Homo sapiens: one gene and its partner. The protein of the gene in region 2 purifies or fractionates together with the protein of the main gene of each other region. This does not show direct contact. Each region holds a gene or a part of one and is shown on either strand. Other genes may lie near its edges.

Region 1 (6,820 bases), on a different chromosome or scaffold from region 2:
GAAAAATCAATCAATAAATAGGAAGCACAGCATAAAAGTTTAGAAAAGTCACAACCTGGCAATGTGGTAGAGAAGGGAAGAGCATTTTTTAGGAGAGAAATAGAAGCAGGCTGTATTGCCTTGCTGGAGAGGTTGCGTGACTAAAAGGAAGCCAAGTGCTAACATCCAAGACAATGGGAAAAAGGCCTTGAAGGCATTTCAGGAGTCTTCAAAACAGCCTCCCCCATCACAGGCTCTGAGGCATATAAGGAAAGAGTGGTTTACTGGGCCAGATCCAGGGCCCTGTCTCCTGCTCAGCCTGGGGACACTGCTCCCCTGCATCCCTGCTGTTCGATCACCAGCCATGACACACAGGGTCCCAAGTACAGCTTGGGCCACCACTCCAGAGGGTGCAAGCCATAAACTTTGGCAGCTTTCATGTGGGATTAAGCCTGCAGGTGCACAGAATGCAAGAGTGAAGGAAGCTTAGCAGCTCCCACCTGGATTTCAGAGGATGTGTAGGAAAGCCTGGGTGTCCAGGCAGAAGTCGGCTGCATGGTTGGAGTCCCTACAGAGAGCCTCTACTAGGACAGTGCCAAGGGGGAAAGGTGGGGTTGGAGGCCTAACATAGAGTCCCCACCAGGGCGCTGCCTAGTGGAGCTGTGAGAAGGGGACCCCTCCTCTCTAGATCCCAGAGTGACAGGTCTGCCAGCAGATTGCACCCTGAGCCTACAACAGCTGCAGGCACTAAACTCCAACCTGTGTGAGGAGACATTGGGGCTGGACTTTGCTGCCCAAGACTTTGGGAGCCCACTCCTTGCACCAGTGTGCCTTGGATGCAGAACATGGAATCAGGGATTATTTTGGAGCTTTAAAGTTTTTTTTTGTTTTTGTTTTTGTTTTGAGACAGAGTCTTTCTCTGTTGCTCAGGCTGGAGTGTAGTGGTGCAATCTTGGCTCACGACAACCTTCGCCTCCCGAGTTCAAGCAATTCTTCTGTCTCAGCCTCCTGAGTAGCTGGGATTACAGGCACCTGCCACCACACCTGGCTAATTTTTGTATTTTTAGTAGAGATGAGGTTTCACCATCTTGGCCAGGCTGGTCTTGAACTCCTGACCTCGTGATCCATCCACCTCGGCCTCCCAAAGTGCTGAGATGACAGGTGTGAGCCACTGTGCCAGGCTAGAGCTTTAAAGTTTAATGTCTTCTCTGCTGTGTTTCAGACTTCTGTTAAGCCTATTGTCCCTTTCCTTTGGCAGATTTCTCCCTTTTATTTTATTATTATTATTATTTTATTTTTATTGTTGTTGTTTTGAGACAAAGTCTCGCTCTGTTGCCACGCTGGAGTATAGTGGCACGATCCTGGCTCACCGCAACCTCTGCTTCCTGGGTTCAAGCAATTCTCCTGCCTCAGCCTCCCAAGTAGCTGGGACAACAGGCACGTGCCACCATACCCAGCTAATTTTTGTATTTTTAGTAGAGACAGGGTTTCACCATGTTGGCCAGGATGGTCTCGATCTCTTGACCTCATGATCTGCCTGCCTCAGCCTCCCAAAGTGCCAGGATTACAGGTGTGAGCCACCGTGCCCAGCCATCATTATTATTTTTTGAGATAGAGTCTTGCTCTGTCCAGGCTGGAGTGCAGTTGCACAGTCTCAGCTCACTGCAACCTCCACCTCCCAGATTCAAGCGATTCTCCTGCCTTAGCCTTCAAAGTAGCTGGGATTACAGGTGCATGCCACCATGTCCAGCTAATTTTTGTATTTTTAGTAGAGAAGGGGTTTCGCCATGTTGCCCAGGCTGGTCTTGAACTCCTGATCTCAGGGATCCTCCTACCTTGGCCTCCCAAAGTGCTGGGATTACAGGTGTGAGCCACCACACCCGGCCTATTTTATTTGTTTTTTTGAGACAGATTCTCACTCTGTTGCCCAGGCTGGAGTGCAGTCGTGCAATCTCTGCCTCCCGGGTTCAAGCAATTCTCCTGCCTCAGCTTCCCAGGTAGCTGGAATTACAGGTGCGTGCCACCACTCCCAGCTAATTTTTGTATTTTTAGTAGAGATGGGATTTCACCATGTTGGCCAGGCTGGTCTCGAACTCCTGACCTCAGGTGATCCGCCCACCTCGGCCTCCCAAAGTGCTGGGATTACAGGTGTGAGCCACCACACCCAGCCCTTTTCTTTCTTTTTTTTTTTTTTTTTTTGAGACGGAGTCTCGCTCTGTCGCCCAGGCTGGAGTCTAGTGGCACAATCTTGGCTCACTGCAGCCTCAACTTTCTCGGCTCAAACGATCCTCCCACTTCTTTTTTTTATTTGAGACGGAGTTTTGCTCTTGTCTCCCAGGCTGGAGTGCAATGGTGCCATCTTGGCTCACCACAACCTCTGCCTCCCAGGTTCAAGTGATTCTCCTGCCTCAGCCTCTCAAGTAGCTGGGATTATAGGCATGTGCCACCATGCCCAGCTAATTTTGTATTTTTAGTAGAGACGGGGTTTCTCCATGTTGATCAGTCTGGTCTCGAACTATTGACCTCAGGTGATCTGCCCGCCTTGGCCTCCCAAAGTGCTGGGATTACAGGCGTGAGCACTGCACTCGGCCTTTTTCTTGAAACATAAAATTAGTCATTTTAATTTGCAATAATTTCTGTAGTTATTAAACAGGCTATTGAATCCATCCACAAAACTTAAGATACAATACTTAAGAACAGGGCTCTAAATAACAAGTGCCAGCTCTCTGATCTCATGGCCAACAACCTGAGATTCCTGCCATCTGGTCTCAGTTCAGGACCTTTGCACTTACTGTTAAACACCGCCCCCCCGGCCCCACCCCAGATCTCGCTTCTATCTGTCCTTTATTCAAATGTTACCTCTTCAGAGGGGCCTTCCATTATCACCCTTTCTAAAACAGCCTCGCTCTCACTTCCCATCCCTTTATTCTGCTCCATCGTTCTTCATTATGCTGGCCACTATCTCAAATTATCTTTTATTATTTATTTATTTATTTACTTTTGAGACGGAGTCGCTCTGTCGCCCAGGCTGGAGTGCAATGGCACGACCTCGGCTCACTGCAACCTCCGCCTCCCGAGTTCAAGCGATTCTCCCGCCTCAGCCTCCAGAGTAACCGGGCTTACAGGCGCGCACGGCCACGCCCGGCTAATTTTTGTATTTTTAGTAGAGACGGGCTTTCACCATGTTGGTCAGGTTGGTCTCACACTCCTGACCTCAGGTGATCTGCCCGCCTCAGCCTCCCAAAAGTTCTGGGATTACAGGCGTGATCCACCGCGCCTGGCCTCAAATTATCTTTATTCAGTTAAATGCTTTTATTGTCTCTCCCAGTACAATGTAAGCCCTAGCAGCAGAAGACTTTGCTTTAATCACGTGCTGTACCCCCAAAGCCCAGACAGTGCCTAGCACACACGAGATGCTCGATGAATAGTTATTGATTGAATAGATTAGACATCAACGCAATCAGGCTGTTCACCTAGGGACTCTTTGCTAGGCGGCGGAGAGGTACGTTACAGTTCTCTACGCAAAACGCATGCGCGAAAGATCCGGGAAGTGTGATCGGAAAGGGGCGGAGCATCAGGGAGAGTCTCGCGGACATAGGCGGTTCGGCGCGGAAAGCGGGAGGTGGAGGGGCGGCTTGGGGCAAGCGCGCGCGCGCAGTGCAGAAGCCAGCCCCCCGCGGCTGAGGTACTCAAGGTGCCCAAAGGCGGGGTAGTGACCTCGCGCGTGCGCTGTGCCCGCGGCAGCGCCGGGTCCTAGTGTGTGGGTTGTTGTTGGCACCGCACGGCGCGTGCGCAGTGAGGACGGCGGAGGGATTTGCGGCCGGGACCCACCCCCTGCTCCAGTCGCTATCGGAGGCCGCGCGGGTGGCTGAGCAGCGGCCTGGTGCGCTCGCTTAGCGGGCGACGGAATCAGACGGACGTGGACGCCCCCGGAGTGGAAGCCGAAGCAGGAGTTGTTGTTGCTGAGGGGCTGCCGCAGCCGCCGCGAGCCTCCGGACAGACGCCAGAGCGAGGAGGGCGCTACGCGGTGAGTGAGTGTGACTGAGTGGCCCGACGGGGTGCGGGGCCGCTACCCAGAAGCCCCAGCGGTGGGCCCGGTCCTCTTCCCCGCGGCCAGGCCCCTTTCCCGCGTCCCCGCCACAGGTCCCTTCTGCATCCCTTTCCCGGACCCCGAAATCTCTGGGCACCCACGCCCGCTTCCCACAGCGCCCTCGTGGTTCCCTACCCACAGGCCCTTGCGGTGTGTGGCCTTTTTTCTTTTTCGTTTGTCTATGTTGTCCTGGACCCTTACCCATAATTCCTTTCGCTTTTTGCGGGGTCCAGGTCTGTTACCCACAAGCACTTGGTTTTGGGGCTTCGCTCCTTATGTTTCTCTTTCTTTGCTTGGAAACTTCCGATCCCCAGGACCCTGCAAACTGCATCTCGTAATTTGCCCTCCACGGCACGGGACGAGCAGCCACAGCTGCTCTGGGCCTCCCTCCTCGGGTCCTTGATTTCCCCAGAAATTCCCAGGGAACCTCTCCGCCCCACAGCTCGTGTCAGAGGACTCTGAGACTTCACTCTTCAGGAACCCTTTTCCAGCCGTTATTTTTGTTTTCTTTACCGGCCTTTCACCTCCACCCCCACCAAGACGTACCCTTTTCTCCGCAACACAGGACTGTTCTCTGCCCTTACAGAGCCTGTTTTAATTCCGAGACTTTTCTCCTGTCTTTCTTATTTTGAGAGTCAAGGAGTAACAGGGGCTTTCTCTGTGCAGACCCGATCTAACCTAAGGCTGTCCTGCTTCTGCTCTCAGACTTGGCAAGATGACCCAGTTCCTGCCGCCCAACCTTCTGGCCCTCTTTGCCCCCCGTGACCCTATTCCATACCTGCCACCCCTGGAGAAACTGCCACATGAAAAACACCACAATCAACCTTATTGTGGCATTGCGCCGTACATTCGAGAGTTTGAGGTGAGTTCACTGAGCAGGCCAGGAATGGTTTGGGTTCTGGGGAGCAACGGGTTGGATTTGCGAGTCCAGCTTCTGGCCATTTTGCCAGCTGCGTGATTTAAGCGAGGGGCTTAACCTTTGTGATCCTCAGTTTCTCTGTTTTAAATGGGGTTGGAGCCGGGTGTCGGGTGTGGTCGAGTGCGTCTGTAGTCTCAGCTACTCAGGAGGCTGAGGTGGGAGGATTGCTTGAGCCCAGGAGTCGGAGGCTGGAGTGCTTTGTGATTGTGCCACTATACTCCGGCCTGGGTGACAGAGCAGGACTTCGTCTCTCAAAAAAAAAATTTTTTTTTTAAGTGGGGTTGTGGCCCGGTACGGTGGCTCACGCCTGTAATCCCAGTACTTTGGGAGACCGAGGCAGGCGGATCACTTGAGGTGAGGAGTTGAAGACCAGCCTGGCCAACATGGTGAAACCACGTCTCTGCTAAAAATAACAAAAATTAGCCGGACATGGTGCCTGTAATTCCAGCTACTTGGGAGGCTGAGGCACGGGAATCACTTGAACCCAGGAGGCGGAGGTTGCAATGAGCCGAGATCGCGCCACTGCACTCCATCCTGAGCAACAGAACAAGACTGTCTCAAAAAAAAAAAAAAAAAAAAAGTGGGGTTGATAGTACACCTTTTGTAGAATTTTTGTGAAAATTCAGTGAGTAGTGGTTGAGGATTCATGCCTAACCCACACCATTTATCAGCTCTGACTTTGGGCAAATGTTGTATCCTCTTAATGCATTGGTTTCTTTATCTTTAGCAAGGGGATAGTGGTAGCACCCTTATAATGTTGGTGGAGAATTAAATGGCAAACTGTATGTCAGGGGGCTTGGCACCAAGCAGTCAGCACATGTCAGCCTTTGTTACTCTGTTTACTACTTTTATTGTTAATAAGATGATGTTCATAAAGGCTTAGCACCCAGTATTGAGTATTGGAGGGCTTAAAACTGCAGATGGGGATCTTAGCTCTGCACCTTTGGGATAAATAGGAATGAATGACTTAGGCTCCTGGACCTCTGTGTTTTTATTTGTGAAATGGGATGACAAGGGTCATCTCTTAGGTGCATCAGAGCACACCTGAGAAAAGCTGGCACACAGTCGGAAGTTACAAGAAGAACGTTCTAGCATTGGGTAGGTAAGGGCAGCTGGAGGCGAGGGAGTTGCAGAGCAGAATTTCGTAGATAACAGAAAGGTATGTCTTCAGTGGGATTTGCCACCCTTGGTGAACCCGCACTTGAGAGATATTACTGGCCAATTAACTTAATGGGCACAGGCGGGTGGTAGGTGCCCTTTGATGATGCAGGTCATGTGCCAGTTACCATTTATTTATTTATGAGACAGTTTTGCTCTGTTGCCCAGGCTGGAGTGCAGTGGCGTGATTTTAGCCAACTGCAGCCTCCGGTTCAAGCAGTTCTCCTGCCTCAGCCTCTCAAGTAGCTGGGATTACAGGCATGCACCACCACGCCTGGCTAATTTTGTATTTTTAGTAGAGATGGGGTTTCACCATGTAGGCCAGGCTGGTTTCGAACCCCTAACCTCAGGTGATCCACCCCCCTTGGCCTCCCAGAGTGCTGGGATTACAGGTGTGAGCCACCATGCCTGGGAGCCAGGTACTTTTTTTTTTTTTTTTTTTTTGACTTGGAGTCTCGCTCTGTTGCCTAGGCTGGAGTGCAGTGGCGTGATCTCGGCTCACTGCAAGCTCCGCCTCCCGGGTTCATGCCATTCTCCTGCCTCAGCCTCCCGAGTAGCTGGGACTACAGGTGCCCGCCACCACGCCTGGCTAATTTTTTGTATTTTTAGAGATGGGGTTTCACCGTGTTAGCCAGGATGGTCTTGATCTCCTGACCTTGTGATCTGCCCACTTT
Region 2 (7,488 bases):
AAATAAATACGAGCTCCTTTGAAAGAAATAGTTGATTTGTGTTTCAAAAGGAAGATAGTATTCTGTATCTGGTAGTATCTCTATGGCTCTAGAGATAACTACAGTTTGATACTAGAATAATCTACCAACCATTTTTTTCTTTTTTCTTTTCTTTCTTTTTTTTTTTTTTGAGATGAGGTCTTGCTCTGTTACTCAGGCTGGAGTGCAGTGGTGTGATCTCAGCTCACTGCAACCTCCACCTCACAGGTTCAAGCAATTCTCCCACCTTCCCACCTCAGCCTCTGAAGTAGCTGGGACTACAGGCATGCACTATGGCACCAGACTAATTTTTGTGTGTGTATATATATATTTTTTTTAATTTTTTATTTTTTTAATAGAGATGGGGTTTCACAATGTTGGTCAGGCTGGTCTCAAGCTCCTGACCTCAAGTGATCCACCCACCTCAGCCTCCCAAAGCTCTAGGACTACAGGCATGAGCCACCATGCCTGGCCTACCAACCATTCTTTTTTTTCTTCTTTTTTTTTTTTTTTGAGACAGAATCTGACTCTGTTGTCCAGGCTGGAGTGCAGTGGCATGATCTTGGCTCACTGCAACCTCCACCTCCTGAGTTCAAGCGATTCTCCTGCCTCAGCCTCCAGAATAGCTGGGATTACAGGCGCCTGCCACCACGCCCAGCTAATTTTGTATTTATAGTAGAGACAGGGTTTCACTGTGTTGGCCAGGCTGGTCTCGAACTCATAACCTTGTGATCCGCCTGCCTCGGCCTCTCAAAGTGCTGAGATTACAAACTGAGCCACCGCGCCCGACCCCAACCATTCTTAAAAAAGAAATGCTTAGGTTCTTGCTACCCAAAATGCGGTATGGGACCAGCAGCATCAGCATCATCCGGGAGTTTGCTACAAATGCAGCTTCTCAGCACTGGATTAAGATATCTGGGGAATGCCCAAGAAATCAACAATATATCACTTTTGAAATTACACAATCAGGGCCTGACAGTCTTTTTTTTTTTTTAAAGCTGTTCTTTTTAAATTTTGTGTTTTCAAACTGTCCTAAGGCTTAAGACTCAAAAAAAATTACAGGGATTAATCATAGGGGAAGCAAAACCCATTATATTTAAAAGTTGTGTGTGCATAATATTTTATTTCATGGGAGCATCTCATGGGACTGAAATCTTAATTTTCTAGTCTCAAAGAGAACGACAGTTGTATGATGCTACTTTAGCTCCTTTAGGGAAGGGCAGGTGATACAATACTGAGCACAACCTACATGTCTCACAAAAAGTTCACCAAAAAAGTTCAGGTTTTCCCCACACTTCTTTGGATTAATGATCAGGTCCTCAAAGAAAAACTACCATTTCCAAACTTTATGGAATGTGCACATTCTCATAGCCTATCTGAGACATCACCCATTCTGGGGAGAGGGTATTTTGCTGCATGTGAAAGACACACTATTCTTAACATTAATACAGTAGTGAACATCAGAGGCAATAGTCATATTTGGGTTTCTTTCATTCCTAAAAGCAAGAATGTATCCACAAAGAATGAAATGTAAGAATTAAGTAAAATGAAAGAAAATTGCACAAAATTATTTCCTCCCTGAATTGGGGGTGGGAGAGTGGTGCTTTTTAGGAAGTTTCAGTCAACATTATCCCAACCTCCCTGGAAAACATAAACCTGATTTGGTGCTCAACAATAACGCCTAGATTTGTTTAATGCTTGTTGTGAAAATAATTTCACTCTAGATACATTTCTTAATGTAATCACCACCTGGGGAGAGAAAGAAGATACAAACGAATTGCCATACATTTTGTGACTCTATGTAACATAAATAAGACAAAATTTATCCACCAGTTTTATGGTGCATTTTCCTTTATACATGGCTCCTTCTTAAAACTACTGCAGCAAGATACCAAAAACAATTAATGAGAAACATAAAACACGTGCAGATAAGGTAGGGAAATGTATGTGTATTCAGAGTCACTAAGAGACACCTCAGTTATCTTCCTTATAATTTAGACATCTTGGCACAGTTTTATTCCCTACTGTTTGTAGTAATTTTTCTGCTACTCCCAAAATAAGCAAGTTTTATCATCTGCAAATACATGACACTTGGATAGGGTGGTTATAACGCTGCCTCCTTGTTTCTCTCGATTAAAAAAAGCCTGTTTCACAGGAAAATAAATCACGATACCTAACCCAAATGTGAAAGAACAGACTGAGCAGAACTAACAAAACTCATTTGCTCTTCTAGTTTTTAAAAATGTGAGTTTTGGACATCTGATTCCTGATCTCACCCTCAAGAAGTGGATCTGGTTATAAAGTGATGATGTTTTACAGTACATGTGACCATAGTTTAGCTGCTATAATATTCTTAATATAGTTACATAGCCAGGCTATGCAAGGTTTCTCACAAAACCAGAAAAGCTATTCGATCCTTATCATTCCCTTCCTGTACTGTTCTCAATAACTGGCTTCTCAAATCGTTCAGGAAACCACTGAGAATCATTAACGGGTTATTGGAATGCCCAGAGTGACTGCCCAAGGACAGGAAAATGCACTGGCTCTTTTTAGAAGAACCTGGAAAAGTGCATGCAGACCATTGCGGCTGAGTTGGCAATGGATGATTTCCTTCTCACAGTGTAATGTACAATAGCTGTAATTTAATTGTTAATAGAACACAACATGCAGTCTGTCTTCAGGCCTCTGTGTTTCTTGTGGTATTTTCTTCCCAGGTTGGAGTGTTTTTGTATAATCACATCTTATTCTCTTTTAACAGTTATCAACTCTTGGCTAGATCCCCTTATACAATACAGAGTATAGTTTATTCTCAGTAGTGTAGCCATCCTCATTATTATCAAACAGAACTAATTGCTGAGATGCTCATAGTAATATGCAAAACAGCTTGTCCTTTGTTATTTAGAAATTGTTTATATTAAGTTTATATTCTCTTTTAATTTGTTAAAGATATAATTCTTTGACTGAGATAGGACATTTCTTCTCATTGGTTTATTTATTTTAGAGATGAGATCTCACTATGTTGCCCAGGATGATTTTGAACTCCTGGACTCAACCAGTCCTCCTGTCTCAGCCTCCCCAAATGCTAGGATTACAGGTGTGAGCTACTACACTCAGCCATTTCTTCTAGTTTTAGATCTATATAATAAAACGATGCTTTTCTGTGATCCCTTAACATTCTCTACACTCAGGTGCATGTTCAAAGCATATTTGTTTTACTGTTGCCTAGTTTTCCATGTCATTCATTGAATTATCCAATGCATATTAATTATCAGTCACTTTTCCCATTACTAAGGGTACTTGAGTGAACAGAGCAGACAAAAACCCCACCCTTAAAAAGCTTATATTATTTTCAAGTTGTTGCAACTTTGGGTGTTTTTAAAAAATAAAAATTCCCAGCTGATAAAACCAACTTATTTGACAGCTACCTGCCTCACCAGTAGAACCAAGTTATAGCCAGAATTCAGAAATAACATTTTTGAGCATTTATTGTGTCTGACAATGTGCCAATCACTTTACATTTATTTTAGCTCATTTAATGCTTACAACAACTAGAAGGAGGTACTATTAGGATCCCTATTTTACAGATGAAAAAAGTGAAGGTCAGAGAGATTAGTTAAGCAGAGGGTACAAGATTAGGTTCCAGTTGACTCTTAACAACCATTTCATATTCCAGGTGATGCTTTACAGACATCTGATGAATGGATGGATGAATGAATGCATGCACTTTGGGAACTCCCATTCAGCTTGGCATAAATACTAACTCCTTAGAATACCCTAGAAAAATCTAGACCTTTTGTTGGAAGAAAAGAGTGGGAAGGGTGGTAGGGAATTATTTTTTCGAGTGAATTGAGGCAGATGATCTTACAGATGACTGGGTTCTAGTCAGCATGGTTGCCTTATCTGGTGAGAGATGAGAATTGGGCAGACACCAGTTCTGTCTGCCCTGGGCCCTCAAACTGAGTAGCCTCTGAGATTCAAGTTCATCAGCACAGTGTTGGAGGACAGTTCCTGCAGAGCCCCATGAATCAGAGGAGACTCGGAGGCAGGAGGAACTGGCTATCCTAAAGGTGATTTTAAACCGGGGTAGCTAGAGCCCAAAGAAGGGCGAAACCAGGACTAACTGCCCCATAGCATGAGGGGCAGCGCCTGTAAAATTACATAGGATTTGTAAAGGTGGAAGGCACTGTTGCGCCGGGTAAAGCTTCGCAAGGTCGTGGTAGGGGAAATGATTCACTCCCCTTCACTATTCCCTCGCAGCATGGTCCTCACAACCCCCTTCTCTTTCCCCATTTCCATTTCCGGACTCTTCTCCTGCCCGCAGGGCAGACGCACGCGCAGAGAGATTGCCAGCCCTGGCTGCCAGAGACCCGGAAGCATCGATCGGCTCTGTGCTCGGCTTCTAGACTTGTCGGCGCTCGATTGAGGAGCGTGGCTACGTTGCTTCCGGTGCCTGGCTCCGTTTCCTGCTTTTGGTTCTTACAGTAGTCGGCGTAGGCCTTAGGTGGGTTCGTGCGCCTTCTACCTCGCTGTTTCGGTTTTCCTGGCTCCTCGGCCCTTTTCTCCCCTGTTGCAGCTGGGAGCGGACGAAGCGCGAAGCTGGGGTGGGTACGCGTTTGGCCCGGGTTTGGATCTCGGAGGGGCAGGCTTGGGGGTGAGGAGACTGACTCTGGGGCCGGGCATCGCGTGGCAGCTCCCTTGGACTTCGTTAGGGGGCCTTGGGCGAAGGTGCTTGTGTCTGGAGAGGCGGGAGGCTTGCGCGTACGAAGTAAAGGATAGTTAATGTCAGTCTGCTCGTGCGAGGCGTGGACAGTTCACTGCGCTTTCAGGTGTCTTCCAGCGGCTCCCTTTTGGTGGTGGCGGGTAATTCAGGGTGTCCCTGTAACAACGCAGCCCACGATCAAACCTCGCATGAAACCCTGCAAGAGCCTCCCCTTTGTCCCCCTACCTTCACTTTGACCTCTGCCTCAGTCACTTCCCTTTCGTCGTCTCCTTTGCGACCCCTGCCCCTTCTCCAGATTTCGATTTAGGGGGTCGCAAGGCTTTGAGAAGCGTTACGTTTTACCTGTTACCTGCACAAGTGCAGCCCCTGCTTGTAGGCTCTTCCCTTGTCAATCATCCAATGCAGTTCACATACAGTGGATGCTCTGTAAATACTGTGAGATAAAGGAATATGTGGGGCACACAAGGAAATCATCCAAGTTCACAATTTGCAAGTAAAAACCATGTAAAAAATGCAATAGTGTGGTATATGAGGAAGACAAGTGTAGAGGAGAAAGCAAGGGCTGAATTTCCAGGCCTGATGCTTATTAGCTGTGTGACCTTAGGCAAGTTCCTTACCTGGTAATAGCTGTTAATAATAGCTACTCTTAAGTGTTTACCGCTGATGCAGAACTGTGCTAGAATTCATTTAGTCTTCTGAGTTCTATTGGGTAGGTTCTGTTACCATTCTTATTTTACTGATGAGGACCTGAGAGGTTAAGGAACTTCCCTCAGGCAAACAGCTAGTAAGAAGCATAAATAGGATTTGAATTCACATCTGGCTGATACTGGAATCTGAGTTTAATCGTCATGCCACACTGCTGTCATTGAGCTCCTTTCTTTCAAGTCGGTTAGAGATAACCTTGGAGTCCAGACAGCTTGGTGATGCTGTATACAAATTAATAGGTATGGAAGGACTTTGTAAGTGCACCCATTAAGTAGTTGGCAAACTTCATTAATGTCTAACCTTATGATTTTTACTGGATGTACATTTGCTACTTTGGTCATTTTTCTTCAAATCTACATTTTAAAATTATTTCATTGAGGAGGTGGAAAGAAAATGTCACGTGTCATAAGTGAAACGTAAGTGTAAAAATAAATGTGTTGAATTAAATGGTGTTACTAAAATCTGGCTAGGTATTGGTGCTCCAAGTTTTGAATGTGAGAAACTGTTCTTCTTCTGTATGAAAAGGAGGGCTAGTAGGTGCTGGAGATACAATAAAGGCTACAGCCAAACTGACATTTTCTGACAACTGGGATTGAAAGAGAAATGAAAAGTTAATAATTCTTGTGTTGTGTCCTTATGCCACAGTCCAGTATAATTTACTCCTTCCTTTTTATAACAGATTTTTTACTGTCTCCTGAAGAATTTAACACAAACATGGATATCAGACCAAATCATACAATTTATATCAACAATATGAATGACAAAATTAAAAAGGAAGGTAAGTGCTTTTTAGAATACTTGTTCACTACTAAAATGTGTTTATTTACTACTGTCTTAAAAATTGTACTGCCTCAAAACCTCTTACCTCATCATCTTAGTGCCTGAAATAATGGTTTATCCCATTTCCTATAGGGATTTGAAGGCTTTTAAAAAACAAAAATAGGTAGGAACTGACAGTGTGTACAGTCTGTTTCTACTCATAGATATAATGGTTTCATATAACTTTTAAAATTACATATAGCCAATGGGAATAGTATATGTTTTTATAAATATTAAAATATATAACTGTATAAATAAGTGAATGGTGGGGGGGGCAACTCAATGCAGTATCATTTTATGAAGACTTTTGTCATTACTTTATTACCAATAACTTGTTTCTTTTCTAATTTGGACAGAATTGAAGAGATCCCTATATGCCCTGTTTTCTCAGTTTGGTCATGTGGTGGACATTGTGGCTTTAAAGACCATGAAGATGAGGGGGCAGGCCTTTGTCATATTTAAGGAACTGGGCTCATCCACAAATGCCTTGAGACAGCTACAAGGATTTCCATTTTATGGTAAACCAATGGTAAGCCAATTCCATTATTTCACTTTAATCAAGAAATTAATGATATTGATGGGACAGTAGATTTGTAAATATGCTTGAAACTGTGGCTATTGCTTTCTGCTTTTAATTATGTGTGTTTGGGTTTATGTATTTTTATAGAAAAACAGTAGTGGTAGAGTTTAATTTATGACAGTTCAGATGGGCAAAAACAAAATACATTGAGATGTAGAATATTTTAAAAAATAATGGCAGTCTAGGCAATAGTCTTATCTCAAAAAGTTAGAAATTAATAATATCCTGGAAGACTTGAAAAGAAACCTGTTTGTAAACTTGTAAAACATTACGAAACAAAAGTCATGAGTCAAAGAGGAAATTCAGTCTGAAGTTTTAGAATATGTCGTAGTGAAATACTATGTGTCAGAAGCTGCACAGTCTAGATGAAACAGTGATCTAAGGAAAAATGATAGGTTTAAACTCATAGGTTTTAGGAATAACAATGGAAATGAAATGGTTATGAATGGAGAGTTTTAAACTCAGGAATGACATAATGAGATTCACATCTAGCTGCTGGATGAAGGTCGCATTGTGGGAGGGACAGAAAGGAAGTGGGAAACTCAATTAGGAGGCCCTTGATGTAAGTCAGAGATGGTAGAGGATCAGATAAGGGTGACCACAGAGTGTGAAGCAAGGGGTTTCTATGTATGAGTGAATACACCAT

What was found. Proteins that work in one complex are often made in the same cells at the same time.
Region 1: the proteins of SNRPB2 (region 2) and SNRNP70 purify together in Homo sapiens (affinity purification with mass spectrometry; 6 studies listed by BioGRID and IntAct, with this or other methods). This does not show direct contact.

The regions. Positions count from the first base shown.
Region 1 is NC_000019.10:49,081,631-49,088,450, forward strand, and holds the start of SNRNP70 (U1 small nuclear ribonucleoprotein 70 kDa), read left to right. Parts: upstream 1-3,820; 5' UTR 3,821-4,006; intron 4,007-4,774; 5' UTR 4,775-4,784; coding exon 4,785-4,931; intron 4,932-6,820. UniProt on the Homo sapiens protein: Component of the spliceosomal U1 snRNP, which is essential for recognition of the pre-mRNA 5' splice-site and the subsequent assembly of the spliceosome. SNRNP70 binds to the loop I region of U1-snRNA.
Region 2 is NC_000020.11:16,725,546-16,733,033, forward strand, and holds the start of SNRPB2 (U2 small nuclear ribonucleoprotein B''), read left to right. Parts: upstream 1-4,480; 5' UTR 4,481-4,619; intron 4,620-6,122; 5' UTR 6,123-6,157; coding exon 6,158-6,221; intron 6,222-6,618; coding exon 6,619-6,791; intron 6,792-7,488. UniProt on the Homo sapiens protein: Involved in pre-mRNA splicing as component of the spliceosome. Associated with sn-RNP U2, where it contributes to the binding of stem loop IV of U2 snRNA.